Homo sapiens: one gene and its partners. The protein of the gene in region 2 interacts with the protein of the main gene of each other region in a pairwise test. Each region holds a gene or a part of one and is shown on either strand. Other genes may lie near its edges.

What was found. The genes of interacting proteins can lie anywhere in the genome.
Region 1: the proteins of CCNF (region 2) and E2F2 interact in a two-hybrid assay, tested with the Homo sapiens proteins (one study listed by BioGRID).
Region 3: the proteins of CCNF (region 2) and PELI2 interact in a two-hybrid assay, tested with the Homo sapiens proteins (one study listed by BioGRID).

Annotation. Positions count from the first base shown.
Region 1 is NC_000001.11:23,514,222-23,521,251, forward strand, and holds part of E2F2 (transcription factor E2F2), read right to left. Parts: intron 6,851-7,030; coding exon 6,692-6,850; intron 4,910-6,691; coding exon 4,795-4,909; intron 2,307-4,794; coding exon 2,114-2,306; intron 1-2,113. UniProt on the Homo sapiens protein: Transcription activator that binds DNA cooperatively with DP proteins through the E2 recognition site, 5'-TTTC[CG]CGC-3' found in the promoter region of a number of genes whose products are involved in cell cycle regulation or in DNA replication.
Region 2 is NC_000016.10:2,446,427-2,453,456, reverse strand, and holds part of CCNF (cyclin-F), read right to left. Parts: intron 4,603-7,030; coding exon 4,479-4,602; intron 4,176-4,478; coding exon 3,995-4,175; intron 3,630-3,994; coding exon 3,542-3,629; intron 248-3,541; coding exon 148-247; intron 48-147; coding exon 1-47. UniProt on the Homo sapiens protein: Substrate recognition component of a SCF (SKP1-CUL1-F-box protein) E3 ubiquitin-protein ligase complex which mediates the ubiquitination and subsequent proteasomal degradation of target proteins.
Region 3 is NC_000014.9:56,296,393-56,302,036, reverse strand, and holds the end of PELI2 (E3 ubiquitin-protein ligase pellino homolog 2), read right to left. Parts: intron 5,438-5,644; coding exon 4,871-5,437; 3' UTR 513-4,870; downstream 1-512. UniProt on the Homo sapiens protein: E3 ubiquitin ligase catalyzing the covalent attachment of ubiquitin moieties onto substrate proteins. Involved in the TLR and IL-1 signaling pathways via interaction with the complex containing IRAK kinases and TRAF6.

The DNA.
Region 1 (7,030 bases), on a different chromosome or scaffold from region 2:
TTCGGAGGGCTATGCGCATGCTGACACTTGAGTGAGGAGGCACAGCAGGAGGAGGATGGACCAGAGGGTGGGGCAGAGGTCTGGGATGGGAGATAGGCACTGGGGAGGTGTCCCAAGGGACAGATGGCTAGCACAGGGAGAAGCTCTGGTCCCTGATGAGGCCTGACAGACACAGGAGAGATCATTAGAGAAGAGTTGGGAGGCTGGGCTCTGGTCCCAGCTCTGCCATCAACTTGCTGTGTGACCTTAGGGAAGCCACTTGCCCTCTCTGGGCCTGTGTTCATTCATGTGTTAAAAGAAGGGTTGAGTTAGTTGGGGACAGCAAACTTCTATAAAGAGCTGGAGCCTGTAATCCCAGCACTTTGGGAAGCCAAGGCAGGTGGATCACCTGAGGTCAAGGGTTCAAGACCAGGCTGGCCAACATGGGGAAACCCTGTCTCTACTAAAAATACAAAAAAAAAAAAAATTAGCTGGGTGTGATGGCGGGCACCTGTAATCCCAGCTACTTGGGAGGCTGAGGCAGGAGAATTGATTGAACCCAGGAGGCAGAGGTTGCTGTGAGCCAAGATCATACCATTGCACTCCAGCCTGGTGACGGAGCGAGACTGTCTCAAAAAAAAAAAAAAAAAAAAAAGCTGGAGAGTATTTTAGGCTTTGTGGGACACTTGTGGTCTCTGTCACATAGTTGCCTTCTTTTTCTTTCTCCCACAACTCTTTAAAAATGTAAAACCATTCTTAGCTCATGGGTCATTAAAAGCAGGTCAGATTTGACCTGCAGGCAATAGTTTATTAACCTCTGAGTTAGAGAAATGGACACAACCAGTGTACTGCAGAGCCCTTCCAGCAAGCCTCTTCCATCAGCCCAGCTCTACCTCTACCTTGGTCTAAACGCTAGGGTTCTACTTAAGAGAATTCTGCTGCTAAGAAGACAAAAAGTGGAACACTGGCCTACATAGCCTTGAAGAATCCTGCCAGTCTAGCCGGATGTGTGATCCAGGAAAAGGCAAAAACTGTTCTGGAGAGGGGCCTTTACAGGCTTCCATTTGTACTCCTTCTGGACTCCCACCCTCCTTGGGAAGCTCTCAGGAACTTTGCTCCCTGGCAACTTACCTGTACTACCTTCCATCAGGGGTAGCCAGCTCTTAACCATACCGTCCACCTCCCAGCCAGAAGCCCCTTCTTCGATTTGATCTATGCCTTGTGGAGAGAGCACTGGGCTGGGAGTATGTAGACCAAGGTTCAAGACACAGCTCTGTTGCCTCCCAGCTGGGAGACCTTAGGTAAGACACATCACCTCTATGTCTTATTTTTTTTTTAATGGGCAAATTTTATTATTTTATTTTTATTAGAGATGGAGTCTCATTATGTTGCCCAGGCTGGTCTTGAACTCCTGGGCTCAAGTGATCCTCCCACCTCAGCTTCCCAGAGTGCTGGGATTATAGGTGGGGACCACAGCGCCTGGCCTATTTTTTAAAATTTTATTCTTATTTTTATTTTTGAGACAGGGTCTCCCTCTGTTGCCCACGCTGGAGTGCAGTGGCATGATCAGAGCTCACTGTAGCCTCAACCTCCATGGCTCAAGTGTTCCTCCCACCTCAGCTTCCCGAGTAGCTGGACTACAGGCGTGTGCCACCACACTCGGCTAATTTGTAAATTTTTTTATAGAGACAGGGTATCCCTATGTTGCCCGGGCTGCTCTTGAACTCCTGGTCTCAAATGATTCTCCTGCCTCAGTCTCCCAAACTGCTGGGATTATAGGCGTGAGCTATATAATCTCACAACAACCTATGAGTTAGACAGTATTAATTACTGCGCCCAACTCACAGATGAGAAAAATTGAGGCCAAGAGAGGTTAAGTAACTTGTCTAAGGTCACATAGCTGGTAAGTGGATGGGCTGGGATTCAAATCCAGGCCTTCCTCTGCCCTGGAGCAGCACCAGCCTTCCTAGTGAGGCTTTATAAAGCATTAAGTACAATGCACATGTGTGGGGTAGGATGACTACATCCCCAGCTGCTGGATAAAACAGGAGGTTTTCAACAAACATTGATATAGAAGAGAAAACTAAGGCCGGTCTCTCCCCCCACCTCCTGTCCCTCTGGACAAGGGACCTACCTGAGGATGCTGTGGGCTCCATGATGCTAGGGTCGGTGCTGCTGCTGGGCTGGGCAGAGTCAGGGCTGGGGCAGAGGGTGGAGGTAGAGGGGAGAGGCTCCTCGGAAGGACTGTCCGGCTCCTGCACCTCCTCTGGGCACAGGTAGACTTCGATGGGCCCTTGGGTGCTCTTGAGATATATCTGCAGGTTGTCCTGGAGGAGGAAGAGAAGCCAGGTCATTGCTCTGGGCAGCTGGACACTTACACTTAGTGTGTATGGACAGACGCACGTGGCTGCTGCCATCCATGGGTGCAAGCTCAAACCCTGGGCTGGCACTGAGACCAACTCCATCTGGCCTAACTAAGGTGGACTTCCGCTGTTTCTGCTGTCTGGCCCTGAAGCCCACTTCTTTTAGGGGGAACACCTTGATTTTCCTGTGGGAAATCACTCTTCCCCCCACTCTCAGGTCATCTAGTTTTGGGGCGGGGGGGGGGGGGCAGCACCCTTCCCCAATGCCAGTGGGTGAGCTTGTGACGCAGCCAGGAAAGTTAGTGTGACATGATTGGTTCAGGATGGCCCATGGCTCAGGTGGATCCAACCAGCACTAGGCCCAGGACTTTTGCTGGACTTGTGGGAAATGGAAGCCCCCTTCCCACTGGGGTTGCTGAGCTGGTATCATAAAAGCTACCTCTACCACCACAAGGAGAGAGCCCACCTGGGAATGGAGTCAGCACAGAGAAAAGCAGAGAGATGAAAAGCGTGAGACAGACCTGAAGTCATAGTTTGAGCATCTACATCCAACCTTGCCAGCAATCTCTGAATCTCCCCCAGGACTTGTCATTTGGTTCCCACCACCCCTACCCATACCTCCCGCTGAAGCCAGTTGGACTTGGCTTTCTGTTACCTGTAACCAAGAGTCCTAGTATTTGGTCTTCCCACCCTGTCCCTTCCCTACCACATAACCGCAACTTAAGCCACAACTGATGACATGCATGCCATCCAGGCACATGTCCAGGTCTCCATGCCTGTACTCACACAGAACTGCACCTAGCAAAAACCCTATTCATTCTTTAAGACCTAGTTTAACTGTCCCCACCTGGGATACCTCCTCTAACTACCCTTTCTCTATGCTTGCAAAGCACATCTTCAGTCTATAAATGACAGCGTCTTTTTCCCACTAAGTCGTGAACTCCTCCAAGGGTGGGGGCAGGACCTTAATTGTCTCTGCAGCCCCAGTTCTTCCTTTAAATAAATTATTTCTTGAGTCCTTATAATATGCCAGGCTCTGGGCAAGGGATACAAGGTGAGTAGAACATTCTCTTGTGAAGCTTACACCCTAATAGATGAAGCAGAATGCAATCGTGTAATCATGCCAAATATACCTCAGCAAATGGAGATTAAATTAAAGGCAGCGGAAAAGCACAGGTGTTTATGAAGTCTGGAGGTAATCAGAGAAGGCTTCCTTGAGGAAGTGACATTTGAGTTGAGACCTGTAGGATGAATAGCGGTAAATCAGGCAGAGAGGGAAGAACATTTCAGCTCGAGGGGAAGAGCATGTATGAGGGTCTTGCACGGCTAGGTGCGGTGGTTCACGCCTATAATCCCAGCACTTTGGGAGGCCAAGGCGGGCAAATCACTTCTATGCCGAAGTTCAAGACCAGCCTGGACAACGTGGCAAAACCTCGTCTCTACAAAAAAAACAAAAAATGTGCTAGGCATGGTGGCATGCACCTGTGGTCCCAGCTACTCAGGAGGGTGAGGTGGGAGGATGGCTTGAACCCGGGAGGCAGAGGTTGCAGTGAGCTGAGATCATGCCACTGCACTCCAGCCTGGGTGACAGAGCAAGACGCTGTCTTAAAAAAAATCAAATAGGTTGAGTGTGGTGGCTCATGCCTGTAATCCCAGCACTTTGGGAGGCCGAGGCAGGTGGATCATGAGGTCAGGAGTTCAAGACCAGCCTGACCAACATGGTGAAACCCCATCTCTACTAAAAAAAAAATACAAAACTTAGCCGGGAGTAGTGGCGGGCATCTGTAATCTCAGCTACTTGGGAGGCTGAGGCAGGAGAATCGCTTCAACCCAGGAGGCGGAGATTGCAGTCAGCCAAGATTGTGTCACTGCACTCCAGCCTGGGCAACAGAGTGAGACTCTGTCTCAAAAATAAATAAATAAATAAATAAATAAATCAAACAAAACAGAAGATCTCATACTAGGAATGAGCTTAGTGCAATGGGGAAACTGCAGACAGGTCAGTGTGGCCAAAACAAAGACAGATGGGGCAGCGGGGAAAAGGAGGTTGGCAACGTCAGCTGGGGTCTCAGAGCACCGAAGCCTCATAGGGAGTGTCAGGAATTTTGGTCTTTAACCTGGGAAAGCACGGTCAGCATGAAAGGATTTTCATGAGTATTGACACCGTCATACGTGGGCATGAGTGTGCATGTGCGCAGGAACCCAGGGCTGGTGGGATGCAGAAAGAAACCAGGAACAGAGATTTTCTCAGGCCACTACTCAGTCTCCGTTGCCCTTTCCAGCTTCTGCCATTTCTGCCCAAGCTTGAAGGCCACCAATATTGCCATGGACACCACAATGGGCCTGCAAAGCATGGGGCTAGGCAGTGCCAGGGACAGAGTCTGCAGAGCCGCCTGGAACGCTCCCTGGCAGGGTCTCAACCCTGCTCTCCACCAAATATTTCCCCTCTCACCTCAGTCCTGTCGGGCACTTCCAGTCTCGTCTGCGGAGGGGCCTTGACGGCAATCACTGTCTGCTCCTTAAAGTTGCCAACAGCACGGATATCCTGGTAAGTCACATAGGCCAGCGTAGGGCAGGAGAGTCAAGAAAAGTGACTGTCTGGTCAAAATTCAAACCCCAAACCTGCCAGGGAGCACCTTCACCCACCTCTCCTAAGCCTCTGAACATTACTTTCTCACTCCTTGTACAACTTAGAAATAATACAATCTGTAACCTGTTAATCTCATAAGCTACCTTAGATCCCTTTGGAAAGCAAATGGGAATATAAATCATAAAAAATGTTGCCTTACATTATAAATCATAAAAAATGTTGCCTTATGTAAAGGCTTCATCTCTCAAACTAGATCATTAGCTCTGAGAAGGCAGGAAGATGTGTTTTATTTCTTTATATTTCTCACAATGCCTAGCATCCTTCCAAAAATACAAGGTCAGATCCAAAACCAATTAGATATGAAATGATTTTGGAAAATGTATGAAAGAGCCTTAGCAAAGTCCATGCTCTTTGACCTCATCATTTCAATCCTAGGGATCTGACCTAGGAAACAAGTAAAAATATGGGAAAGCATTCTATGTATAAAGATATTCGGCCGAACGCGGCGGCTCATGCCTGTAATCCTAGCACTTTGGGAGGCTGAGGCGGGTGGATAACTTGAGGTCAGGAATTCAAGACCAGCCTGGCCAACATGGTGAAACTCCATCTCCACTAAAAATACAAAAATCAGCTGGGTGTGAAGGCCGGGTGCGGTATCTCACTCCTGTAACCCTAGCACTTACGAAGGCTGAGGTGGGTGGATCACCTGAGGTCAGGAGTTCGAGACCAGCCTGACCAACATGGTGAAACCCCGTCTCTACATAAAATACAAAAATTAGCCGGGTGTGGTGGCAGGCGCCTGTAATCTCAGCTACTTGGAAGGCTGAGGCAGGAGAATCGCTTGAACCCAGGGGGCAGAGGTTGCAGTGAGCCAAGATCATGGCACTGCACTCCAGCCTGGGCAGCAATAGTAAGACTCCATCTCAAAAAAAAAAAAAAAAAATTAGCCAGGCATGGTGGCGGGCACCTGTAATCCCAGCTACTTAGGAGGCTGAGGCAGGAGAGTCACTAGAACCCAGGAGGTGGAGGTTGCAGCGAGCCGAGATTGTGCCACTGCACTCCATCCTGGGCAAGAGTGAGACTCTGTCTCAAAAAAAAAAAAAAAAAAAAAAAAAAAAAAAAAAGCTATGTTCAGCAGGCACACAACTACATTACAACTATATTGAAATAAAACACATTCTGTGTGCAGTTCAAGAACAATGGCTATGTTAAGGTGGCAGCTCATCATTCTTTTTCTCCGTTTTCCAGATTTAAAGAAATTTACTTGGCTTATTTTCAATAATGAAAAAATACCTTTAATAAACTTGAGGCCAGGCACAGTGACTCATGCCTGTAATCTCAGCACTTTGGGAGACTGAGGCAGGAGGATCGACTGAAGCCAAGAGTTAGAGACCAGCCTGGGCAACAAAGCGAGACCCTGTCTATACAAAAAATAAAGAATTAGCCAGGCATGGTGGCACATGACTGTAGTTCCAGCTATTCAGGAGGCTGCGGTGGGAGGATCACTTGAACCCAGGAGGGCGAGGCTATAGCGAGCTATGATCATGCCATTGTACTACAGCCTGGATGACGGAATGAGTCCTTGTCTCTAAAAAAAATAAATAAATAATTTTAAAAATAGACTTGAGAAGAAAAGCCACCCAGGAAGGAAGAAACAGATGCCAGACCCTTAGGGTAAGTTACTGAATCAACTCAGGATAGATATAAACATGCAACAGGTTCCTGCTCCCTGACACCTTCCCCCAACCAAGGAGGATATCTCTTGTTGGCCTTGTCCTCAGTCAGGTGCTTGAAGCTCAGAGAGCAGCTCTGGATGAGCTGGTCCAAGGCCTGCTCCGTGTTCATCAGCTCCTTCAGCTCCTGCCCCAGCTGTTGCTGCTTCCCAGGTCTGGTGGGGTCTTCAAACATTCCCCTGCCTCTGGGAACAGAGCAGCCCCCCAGTGTCAGTCTGTGGGTGAAACTCCAGAACAAGGTCATTCAAAAAATAGTCTATGAGGGTGCTTCCCTGGGTTGTGGAAATCAGTGGTCATGCCTGTCTCTCAGGGAGCTACCAGGGATTGGAACCAGAGGTTTGGGGGTTGGGCTTGGGAGAAAAAAC
Region 2 (7,030 bases):
TCTTGTGTCACTCCTAATGCAGCACACAACTGGCTGTAGCTCAGCACCTGAGGGGAAGCTAGAGTTAGGGGGTGCAGAGGCCCCGAGGGTGAGGCCCGCCCACACCCCAGCACCCCATGAGACGCCCAGGTGGCGGGAGGGAGGCACCTCTTCCTGGCTGATTTCTCCATAGCGCTTGTCCTCAAACCGCTGCTTCACGGCGGTCAGAGAGACTTGCCTGTAGTCCTTGGGGGCGTCATCATGGAAGCTGGAAACAGAGTCACGTGGAGTGGACATGTGAGGCACCCCCACCCCATTTTTAGCTTCAGTTCACTGAAGTGAGCAATGAGAATGCAAAATGGTGCAGTCACTCTGGAATCTGACCTGGCAGTTCCCCGAATGGTTAAACTCAGTCACCACAGGACCTAGCAATTCCTCTCTAGGTAAAGACCCAGGAAAAAGGAAAAACTATGTCCACACAGAAACCTGTACTAGAATGTTCATGGCAGGACTGTTCACAATAGGCAAAATGTCCACCAGCTGCGGGATGGATAAACACATGTGGTCCATGCAGGGGAATATTATTCAGCCATGAAAAAGAACAAAGCAGGGACACACACCACATGGACAAACCCAGCAAACGTTACCGCGAGGGAAATCACCTAGACACAGAAGGCCACTTGTCCGATGACGCCATTTATATGGAATGTACAGAATGGGAAACATCCATGGACAGAAAGTAGACTACTGGGGGTCATCTAGCGCTGAGGAAGTTGGGGGGAACGGGAGGGTGACAGCTGAGGGGTGTGTTGTCCCTTTGGGGAAAGTGAAAATGTCATCAATTTGATTGTTGTGATGACAAGCACAACTGTGTGAATAAAAGCCCGTTAAATCACACAATCAAAGGAAGTGTAGTTTCTAAATAACGTTTCTAATTTATCTTGTTTGGAAAAAAAATTAACTTCTTCAGGAGGAAGAGAATAAACGCAGCCCAGAAACAGCTTTTGGTGGCCAGGGTTGGGACGATCTGTGCTCCCCATAAGCAAAGGTGGGTGGGACGAGACCCATGCGAACCCTTCTACTGTCAGCCTCGTTCCTTGCCCAGAAGGCACAGGGTCCGGGCACTGCAGGAGAAAGCAGCATGAGCAGCAGCACATGCCAAAGCCCGGGAGATGCCACCAGGTCCCCTGTGGCTGGAGCACAGCATGGTGGGAGAAAAAGCAGATGGGCCACAGAAGGGGCTGCTCAAGGGCATCGAGACCCCCAGGGAGTTCTGATCTCATCCTGGAAGCCGGACAGCGAGGCCCTGGGTGACGTACACGGGACATGTGCGGGGCGGCTGCCACAGTGTTCCAGGAGGCCGGGCAGCCGCCACGGATAGCTCCAGTCCCCAAGCTGTGAGCGCACGAGGAAACTGCACTGACGAGGATGCAGGGATGGAGAAGCAGCAGCGGCTGGTGGAGGCCTCAGCTGGGCACACAGGGCTTCATGCACCACGACCCACCAGGGCCAGAACAGGCAACAGGCCGTTGGCTGAGTCACGCTGGCAGGGGGGTGGCAGGTCAAGGTTGAGATGTGGCCTGAATTCTGGAAGTGGTGAAGTCTCCCAGGAAGGAGTCTGAGGAGTGGCAGAAAGCCAGAATTCCGGGGCCCCTTGGGGTGGGTGGGAAGGGAGACCAACACCTAGGCCGCATGGCCTAGGGCAGGAAGCCGAAGCCCCCGAGGGAGGGAGGGTCAGCGTAATGCTGGCTGGAGAAAAGCACCCAGGCCTGCTGTGCTGGTGCCTGTGGTTTCTGCTACTCGGGAGGCTGACACAAAAGAATCCCTTGAGCCCGGGAGGTCAGGGCTGCAGTGAGCTAGGATGGTGCCACTGCACTCCAGCCTGGGCCCCCAACTCAAAAAAGGAAAAAAAAGCCCACACCGCTGAGTCTGCTGGATTTGGCTGAGGAAAAGGAAGCCATGGCAGAAGCGGGGAAGTGGGAGACCAGGGAGTGGGGGTGCCGAGAGGTGGGAGGAGCAAGTCTGTGAGCACAGCTGAGGAGGGGAGACGGAGATGGCTGGCCGGGTACAAATTCAGCCCCGTGCTTGTCCCCCTCACCCCTCACTGCCATGACTCCACTCATGGCCCCCAGCCCCACTGGTCTGCACTGGGCCCTGGCATGGCTGCCCCCTTTGCCCTGGACTCAGATGCCCAGGTGACCCCGGCTACGCTCCCTGAAGGGAGTCGCCCCCGCCCGCGCCACCTGCCCCGCGCGCCTGCCTGCTGTTTCTCTCGTCACGACCTGACCTCTGAACTCTCTGTCCTGCCCTCTCCCCCAGCGCCTGGACCACGGTAGGGACTTCATGAACTGCATGGAACAAACCAACGTGGGCTGAAGGGAAGCTGCCAGGGCGAGTGAAGGGGCTTAGATGTGGCGAGGGCCGGGCCAGGCTCACCAGAGAGAAGGGCGGAGGGGCCGGGGCAGGTGGAGGGAAGCCCAGTGGGGCTGGGGCAGACAGGGGGTCACATCCGGGCACGACGGCGCAAGGGACCCACCCGCAGTCTCCATCTTCTCAGTGAGACAGAGGATAGCTCTATCCCAGCAGCTGCATCAGGGCAGAAGCTGTTCTCTCAAGGGAAGGGGAGTATTTTCCTGACTGGGGGCCACGTGGTGTCCGCTGCACTATGAGCTCAGCCACCGCCAGAGCAAAAGCAGCAGCAGACAATGTGGAAACCAGTGAGGGTGGCTGCTGCCAAGAAAACCCCATTCGCAAAAGCAGCCAGATGCCGCCTGAGGGCCACGGTGTGCCAGTGCCTGAGCTAGATGACAACTTGACAACACGCACAAGTTACCACGGGTCAGGGAGATGCCCTCATTTTTTCTAGTATGTTCTGCTGCCTGTGCAATGAGCTTGGGTTGGGAGCAGCTGCTCTCAATGTGAAAAATGTGTGAGATAAGAAACTACTGGAACTTTTTTTTTTTTTTTTGAGATGGAGTTTCACTCGTTGCCTGGGCTGGAGTGCAATGGCGCAATCTCGGCTCACCGCAACCTCTGCCTCCCGGGTTCAAGTGATTCTCCTGTCTCAGCCTCCTGAGTAGCTGGGATTGCAGGCGCATGCCACCACGCCCAGCTAATTTTTTTTTTTTTTTTTTTTTTTTTAGTAGAGACAGGGTTTTGCCACGTTGACCAGGTTGGTCTTGAACTCCTGACCTCGGTGATCCGCCCGCTTTGGCCTCCCAAAGTGCTGGGATTACAGGTGTGAGCCACCATGCCTGGCCAGTTGTTTTTAGAGACAGAGTCTTGCTCTGTCACCCAGGCTGGAGTCCAGTGACGTGATATCAACTCACTGCAACCTCTGCTTCCTGGGTTCAAGCGATTCTCCTGCCTCAGCCTCCTGAGTAGCTGGAATTATAGGCGTGCACCACCACGCCTGGCTAATTTTTGTATTTTTAGTAGAGGTGGGGTTTCACCATGTTGGCCAGGCTGGTCTCAAACTCCTGACCTCAAATGATCTGCCCGCCTCGGCCTCCCAAAGTGCTGGGGTTACAGGCATGAGCCTCTGCGCCCGGCCAAAACTCACCACTTCTTATGGAGGCTCAAGACGCAGGGAATGAGGTCTTCATAGGAGAATCCGGTGAGGTCCCACAGCTGAGTGGTCCAGGGCTGTGCTGGGGAGGAAAGCAGGCCAGGGGTGGAGGGGATGGAGGGGACGGAGGGGATGGAGGGGACGGAGGGGCTGTGGTGACAGCCGCCTGAACACTCCCGCTCTATAGCTCTGTGGGCTCTGCTGTGGAGTTTCTTGGAGCTCAGGGTTGCAATCCTTTTAAAATAGTTTTGAAAAAAACCCATACATAGGGCGTGCAGGCTCATGGTCAGAAATCTGGGACATCACTGAAGGTAGGAGCCGTGCTGTATCTCACCCCCCAAGAAGTAACCAGGACAAATGGATGCTGGACTCTTTTCCTCCCCACAGCCTCCTCCTATGTCAGCACCTTCCCCGACACAGGCATCCCTGGGAAGGGCCACTCCTTACTCTGCCCGTGCGTCAGTCTGGCCAGGAGCAGGGCTGCGGCAGCCAGGCGGGCTGGGGCGTAGGCGGACAGGCTGGTGTGCAGCAGGGAGAGCTCGCAGAGGAAGCTGCACAGGTGCTGGGTTCTCAGCTCCACAGGGACTAGCGTCAGCAGGACCTCCTTGTAATCCACCACAGTGGGGACCTAGACAGCCGGGACGGGGTGTGGGCTCTCAGCGCTCGGGGGCTCCTTGGTGCAGTGCCGCATGCAGGCCCAGCGCAGGGTCTGGCCCGGATGATGTTCACGCCGATGCTGCACGCGTAGCGCACCAGCGCAGATGGCGACGTGGTGCAACCGTGGCCTCCTGCTCCATGGCTTTGGGCACAGCAGAGACAGCTGCTCTCTGAGTCCATGAGGCCCTCCCACAGCAGGAAAGCTGAATGCCCACCCCCACCCTCCAGCACAGCGACAACGAAGATTAATAAGGAAAATGGAACCGCTGCTTACTCGAATCTTCCCTTCCAAGGCGGAGACGATCTCGCCCATCATTCTCACCAGGTCCTCGTACTTGTAAGTGTTGTCCGTGAGCCATACGGCCTCCCGGATGGTCAGGATCTCTTTACTGATAAACCTGCAACGCCGAGAAGGGGTCTCAGGGTGGAGCCCACTTCCTGGGGCAGGGGTGGGGCGGAGGGACCCAAGGCTTTAGGAGGCCTCAAGGTAGGGAGGGAGCCATGGCGTTGGGCTTTGGTGACAAACAGAGGCTTCATAATGGAGCCAGCTGCCTGTGGCTGACAAGGGGCATTTAAAAAAGGGGAGGCCCAGGCAGGAGGACAGCTCAGCCAGGAGTTCGAGACCACCCTGGGCAACAAAGCAAGACCCTATCTCTTCAAAAAGTTAAAAAATAAAAAATTAGCAGAGCATGGTGGCACGTGCCTATAGTCTCAGTTACTTGGGACGCTAAGGTGGGAGGATTGCTTAAGCCCAGGAAGTTGAGGCTGCAGTGAGCTTTGATTACACCACTGCATTCCAACCTGGGTGACAGAGCAAGACACTGTCTCAAAAAATAATCATCATAATAATAACAAAGGGGAGGTCAGAAAGTGCTGGAAAGAGGGATGAGAGCCACAAGGCAGACAGAAAGCAGCAAGGCTGTTAGGCAGACTCACAAATGTCTGCAAAAGGCCCAAGTGCCCTGAGCATTCAGTTTGCTAAAAGACACCAAGGACAGAGATTTGCCTGTCACGTGACAGCTCTATCAGTGGGGTAGAAATGTTATAGACCCAGAAGGTGGGTGAGTCACCAGATCTAGGAATTGGAGGCAAAGGGCCCAAGGGTTGTTGGAAAGTCTGTGCCCGGCACTGTGTGGCCGCAGGAATCCTGACTGTCTCTAGGCGATGGTCACCCTGTTCTCTGTTGTCAACCAGCGCCAACTATCAGGGAACACGCTGCTCCAGCGGCCCCCCGCAAGGCACCTTCCCCTTGGACTGAGGCCAAGTCCCTTGGCTGCTCTGTCCTGGGGACTCTGCAGGTTGCATGCGTCATTCACTTGACCAAGAGGACAAGAGGCGCAGGGACTACACCTGCCAGCGTGGGGGCTGCAGACGCCAAAAAGACAAGATGTCAGTGGCCAATGAGAGCCCAGCGTGGGGTGTGAGATGGCTGGTGGGGGCAGGGCACCTCTGAGAGCAGAGGTGGGGGGCAGCTCAGCCTTTAAAATCTTTTTTTTTTTGAGACAGAGTTTCCCTCTGTCACCCAGGCTGGATTAGTGCAGTGGCGCTATCTCAGCTCACTGCAACCTCCGCCTCCCAGGTTCAAGTGATTCTCATGCCTCAGCCTCCCAAGTAGATGGGACTACAGGCGCCCACTACCACGTCTGGCTAATTTTGTTTGTATTTTTTTGAGACAGAGTCTTGCGCCATTGCCCAGGCTGCAGTGCAATGGTGTAATCTTGGCTCACTGCAACCTCTGCCTCTCGGGTTCAAGCAATTCTCCTGCCTCAGCCTCCTGAGTAGCTGGGATTACAGGCATGCACCACCACGCCCAGCTAATTTTTTGTATCTTTAGTAGAGACAGGGTTTCACCATGTTGGCCAGGCTGGTCTTGAACTCCTGACCTCACGATCCGCCCACATCAGCCTCCCAAAGTGCTGGGATTACAGGCGTGAGCCACCGTGCCTGGTCCCCGGATTTAAAAAAAAAAAAAAAAAAGATAATAAGGCAGAGTTGATTTGAGGGAGCTGTGGTGATAGTTATATGGACCACTGCAATCAGGTCTTGTGGTTGGGGAAGAAATTGGACTCAGCTCCCTGAAACGTTTTTAGCAGTTATTCTCTCACTGCCAGCCGGTTGTGGCCCAGGAGCTTTGTCGTAGGTTGCAGTGATGGATGTGCAGTCAGATCCAGGGAGGCGGCCGCCCGACCTCCTCAGTCGTCTCTGGTCGGAAGACCTGGGACGCTGGATTCAGGCCCAAGAGCGCATCTGAAGACAGCTCTGGATGCTTGTGGCAGGGTTTGCTCCCTCCTTCCATGGGAATGACACTGCATCGAGCTGGCACACACAGGCCCGAAGAGACTACACCTCCCAGTTCCCGTCTGGTGAGATGTGGTCACAAGACTAAGCTCAGTGCAAAGGTGAATGTGGCAGGTACAGGTGTCACAGGGACAAGGGCAGCACCCTAGTTGGTGGCAGAGATTAAGATGGGAGATGGGGCTCCTCTGCTTCCTCATGAAACAAAAAACATGCCAATGACCTGAGCCTGGAACCTCTGCCTCTGGGTTACCTGTGCAAGAAAGAAACAAGTCTCTGTAGCTTACACATATGCTGTGTGCAGCCAAGCCTATCCTCACCCACCAGGCTCTACAGAGGAGTCGGTCTGGAAAGCACTTCCTCGGGAAATGTAGACCATGCTGGGGACAGCTGGTTTAGGAAATGCAAATCGTATTGTGAGAATCATTTCCACGTTATTTCCAAAGGCGGAACTAGGGGATCCAGCATTAGTTAAAGGAAAGCAGTGGTCTGATTTGAAAAGGACAGGCTGCCGTGTAAGGACGCACGCTG
Region 3 (5,644 bases), on a different chromosome or scaffold from region 2:
ATAGTTGTAGCTCTTTGACCCATTTTGATTTAATGTTTGTATGCTGTGTGAGGTGTATTCCTTGCCCAATGGAATGTAACTTACAATTATAACCAGTTGTGATTTTCTATAACACATCTCACAATTCGTGGCATCTTAGATTTGACAAAGTATGGAACACTTATCCCCTGAAATAAAAGCCTATATAAATGTGCATTTTTTTTCTGGAAATGAAAAATCTGTTTCTCTCAATAATACTAAAACTCTTTGAATATCAATGTGATGAGAACAAAATTTGTCATAAATATATACATTTTCTTATGATAGATATATTAGTTTAAGGCTTCAAGGAAGGCTTGAAGGCTTATACACAATCCTTATTATGTTGTTAAAAGTGAATGAAGACTGTCACAAGAGCAGCAATATGGCTGAAATGATCATGACAAAAATCCATTAATTCTACAAGTCAGGTTAAATTCCCCTGGAAGTTAACTTTATTTGACAGTGATGTAATGTCACGAGAAATAGTAATATAGGCACCAAGGAAATTTCTTTAATTAAAAAATGTAGGGGATTTTCAGAATCAAGGTTTAAATATGTATTGTGCAGAATATAAAACAATTAATAAACTCAACAGCTGGAGATTAACTTGGAAGTTAGAGAAGTGAAAAAAATCAGTTCTACTCGTATCAACCTACTAAATGTCCTAATGAACTCAGTGACAACCACAGAATCTGAAGACAATGGCTCACAAACAGGCTGATATCCATTTAATAGTTTTTGAAGATTTTTTCCTGTAAAATGGCTTGTATTTCCACAGGTACAATAGTGAAGAAATAAACTTTTCAATTTGACATGAAATATAAAACAACAATTTTACAAACATATTCATAAAATTTAACTGCTAATAACACAATACATGGTAAATGTGACCATCCCCTTAACTTCTAGACTATTTAATACAGAGAAGCAATCTGTCATCTCAGCTAAAAAGAAACATCTTTCCTTTCATTGAGTTTATTTTTGTTTGTTTAGAAACTGTCAAGCAAAACTGGAAAATACTTATTTTCCTTATCTTCCTCTAGGGATTCTTCATGAGGGCAAAGACTTATTTGAAAGGATGTAAGTTATACTAAAAAGAAAATACTGAACCTTTTTTTTGTGTTACTGCTTCAATGATGCTTAGATTATTTTAAAAAGATGCTGAAGTCGTCTCATTGGTCGCACAGAAGGAGGCGCATCATAACCTAAGCCACAAAGGCTAAACTACTGGGACAGAAGATTGACAGTAAAGGGATGGAGATGGATTTGGCTTAAAATCAAAGTCCTGTGGTTTGTCTATCAGAAATTCCACTGTTATGAGGCAAGGCTGCAAGAAGATAGTTTTTACCCAGCATTAACAATGGTGTAATCACACACCCTTTCAAGCACATCCAAAGAACAGAATGGCTTTAAAAAAGAAAAGAAGTGAAACAAAACCATAGAACTGCAGGTAACAATTCTACAACCTATATTACACTTCAATTAAGCAGAAAACTCTCGTAAGTGTCCACACAATACTGAGCTCCCAAATAACAGAGGTTTGAGTTTTTCCATGAAAAAAAAAAAAAAGACATTGAAGCTTTATGAACTAAAGAGTTCTCCTCAAGTTTCCCAATACAGTAAATGTAATAACTTAAAATAATTTCCCTATTGGTACTGGAAAATAAATTCTACTACAATCATGTTTATGCCAGTTTCTGACATATTTCTGCATCCAGATTCATTAGTCTCCTTAATGGAGCCCATCATTTTTCCAATGGCTTTCTCCTTTCTTTAAACCCTAACCCTGAAATTCTATAACCAGTTATATCACGTGGCTTCCCTGAGGCACAAAGGTACCAAAGTCTATAATTAACTATCGAGGAATGATAAATATGTTCTCTATTTATATTAACAGATTTTAATTCTTTTGGGCCACAGTTGGGAGAAAAAAATCCAGAAACCTTAATACTCTGCAGGGTGAACTGTAGCCCTTTTTGCTAAAAGCTGAACCAAATAAGGGAAATGTTGAGAGTTGCAGCATGCATGACCCGGCAGCACCGATTATTAATAAAAAATTCCGGACTAGAAAAATACTCAGAGTTGTACTCCATCCACTCTGAATCTTTTTTTTTGTAGTAAACGACATAAACAACTGAAAAATATTTCTATGGGAATACATCACTGGGACTTTTACTTCTGGAAAGCTACTTGCAAAAGGCATTAGAGTCAGGCCAAGACAACTAATTGGTCTGCAATTTCCTTGTGTATACACATGGGGGAGTGGGGCTAGTCCTTTAAAGTGATGGCAAGACATAAAAAAAGAAGTGACCTTGGAGAAATTACTTTTCTGAATTGCGTTTCTCCACCTTGGTGAGCTACAGAGTTCTTTATTTTCACAAACTAACTCAACTGTGAAAAAAAAAATCTCCTTAGTCAAAATTGTAAAGGGATCTTCCTACAAGTGGCCAAGAAGAGCCTGGTGTCCTTTTTGCTGATTTGCCACCTCTCTGCAGTTCCTTAGGCAGGGTGGGCGGGACCTGACTTTGGAAGCCAAAGGAAAAGATGTGGAGCCCATGGAGGGCGGTTCACTGTTACCCCTTCCAAGAGCTTGGAAATTATTTCCCAAATTTCAACTTATATTTAAGCTGAATTTACTAAAAGTCAGAAACTTTTAGTTAGACATATGCCCAACTACGGGACGTGTCCAACTTGGAAGGTAACTTCATTTTGGGGGATATGTCACGTTGCAGAATGACTAGACTTATAAACAGGACTTGAAATGGAAAATTATGATATACCTAACTCTCTGGAAAAATATCTTTTTTTCTTGGTAGGTAAAATCTGGCCTTTCTGGATGCAAGACCATTTAGCTTACAAGATGGTTTTAGGGCATCAAGAATCCTTCAACCACTTTCTAGGCATACAGCAAGAAAAGAGAACGAGTGCCTCCTTTGTCATTCTTTGGGGCCCAAAGAATTACAGGCTGAAAAGACATACTCTATCAGTGAAAGCTAATCATCAGAGACTCTGGCTAAATCAAAAGGCATTCAATATATTATTCTAGGCAAGTCCATTTTTTTCTTTCATTTTCTGTCTGCAGGTAGAGTAAGCTATACAGAATACAGCAAGCTATCTGTAAGAGGACTGTTGTCATCGATTTTCACACCATTTAAAATTTACCCAAACAAAACCAAAACCAAAAATGTCTCATCCTAAACAATGATCTCCACTGAAAAATAAAGCTATATTAAAACTGAGAGGCTGAACTTTAAACATATTACATCAAATTAAGCAGCAGCAATCAAGAGTAATATTATCGTATCACTTTAAGGAAAAGCGTATTCAAATAGGTTAGAACGACTGAAAATAGGCAAAATATTTGCCAGTAGGCAAAATACGAAAAAACCAATTCAAGTATGGATATAGTACATTAGAATCATATAAATTACGTATATGTACAAAGGTTAAAAAAAAGTCACCCAAATCTGCAATGGTCAAATTAAGAGAACATTAGTTTAAATAAATACTTATTTTATCTCAGCCAGCTTCTACCAGTCTCATGTCCTAAAGGATCTTTACCTTCTAGGAGCAGTGATACGATCGATGCCAAGCATCCAAGAATTATTAATCAAAATGAAATGAAAGTAACAGGAATGGTGGAGCTCCTATGAAATTCTCATTTAATTATTCCTCAGCAACACTCATTTGCTCTCTCAAAAGCAGGAATTTTGAATTATCTCTGCAGATGTACCACTTGGTGTTGTGTATATCTAATCATCCCACTTAAATTTAGTTTGATTCGCAAACATTTTCAAAACTTACTGGGCTCCTTAAGCTGCAAGGGAAGGTGACAGATGGTGAAAAGGGAGTGCACAACAATGACTATATCATTGTGATTGGTTGGCTTTCTTAACAAAGGAAAAAAAAAAACCCCAAGCTTTATGAAACCTCAAGTGGTTTTAAAAAGTAAAAGCTTATTTTTAATCATTCTTAAATCTTAATTCAGTCAGCAAATAAACATGGTAGTATAGTACCCAGACCATGTCTACTACTGTAATTACCCTCAGTTAATGAGTTTTTAAGAGCTGATGTATTTTAATCAACCAAACAGTTCTGGCCGTGCAAGATGAGTATCGGGGCAAATCATATTAGGCAGAAATAACAAAAGACAGGCTAAAAAGTTATGGAAAATTGTTTGTGAAGTCCCATGTATTTGATGAATGAATATCTAAAGTAAATTCCACTGAAGTTAAAAAAAAAAAAAGCCCACAAGTTATGAATATTCTCTCCCCCAACAAGTCAGAAAAATAAATCAGAAAAAGCCCCAGATTTCAAAACCACCTGTGCCTAAGGCCATCTGTCCACCAGTCACACTGTACAGAGCCGCCCCTCTGCTGTCTGGTCAGGTTTGAGCCACGATCAAGTATTTCTAGACACTGTGCGCCCTTCGCGTAACACCTACACCACACTGCACTGAAGTGAACTTCATGAGCCCACACTTTTGAATAAATTTCTTCTACATCTGTAAAATATGATTTAAAGTCTTGTCCAAGATTACAAAAAAAAAAAAACTTGGTTAAAAACCCAAGGTTAAAAATAGAAGCATAGCATTTTAAATCCAATTATTACAAAGATATTATGGTTTAATCAAGCAGACTTCAATGACGACGCTGCTGTTTTGAGCATGCAACACACCACTGGTATCTGTTACACTCCTGCCATGTTTCATCACCATGTCCCCTCTCTTTATTTCCAGCCCCTGTCACCCTCCTCTGATAAACAGCATTACAAAAAGGTAAAATCTAGAGTTAGTGGCAAAATCTTCACAGTAACCTGTTAATAAAGTCGTAGATGGCTGTCAAGGGCGTCAGTCAATTGGACCTTGGAAAATTAATTTGATGCAGTTTTGCTCCCCAACCAGCTGTGTAGCACAGAAAGGGCAAGCAGCGTGAAATGCATGAGTTCCATGAGGCAACGGGATCTGAGACCAGTATTTTGCAGACTTCTCCGAGCACACGTGTCCACAGGGAGTGAAAGCATGAGTTGGCGGTCCTGCGTCTACATAAAATCCTGCCTCACAGCCAAGCCAGAGAGGCACATAGGGGCCCACAGTCCTGCACATGGGACACTCCCTCTCGTTGGCCTCCGTGTCACTCCGATGGCCCCAGTTGTGGTACCCGTGCACGTGGCCACAACTGAGATATGCCCAGGGCTGCTTCTCCTCCACCACCTCTTTCCTGTTGATGCTGGGGAAGGCCAGGGTGTTGAGCCCCACAGGACACTGAGGCCGGGCGGCGTTAATCTCCTGCCGGAGGGCTTCTATGTGCTTCTGAGTTGGAGTATGAAAAAGCCCATCTGCTGTTCTCCAGAGGAGAGTGGCCCCACACAGGTCAATGAGGGAGCCGTCCTGCAGGACGTTGGTCTCACTTTCCACCTACAACAAGTTTGAGACACATGCCTTTTAAAAGCAAAATCAAGCAAATCACTCCAAGATTCTTTCCTCTCAGAACAAGCAAAAAAATATTTGAAGATAACACAGGGAAGCAATTTATCCCACAAAAACAGAACTGGGGGAGTAACCTATCCTCCCCGAGCCTCATCTTCCTCATCTGATCACTGGATATGATACATATATGCCGTA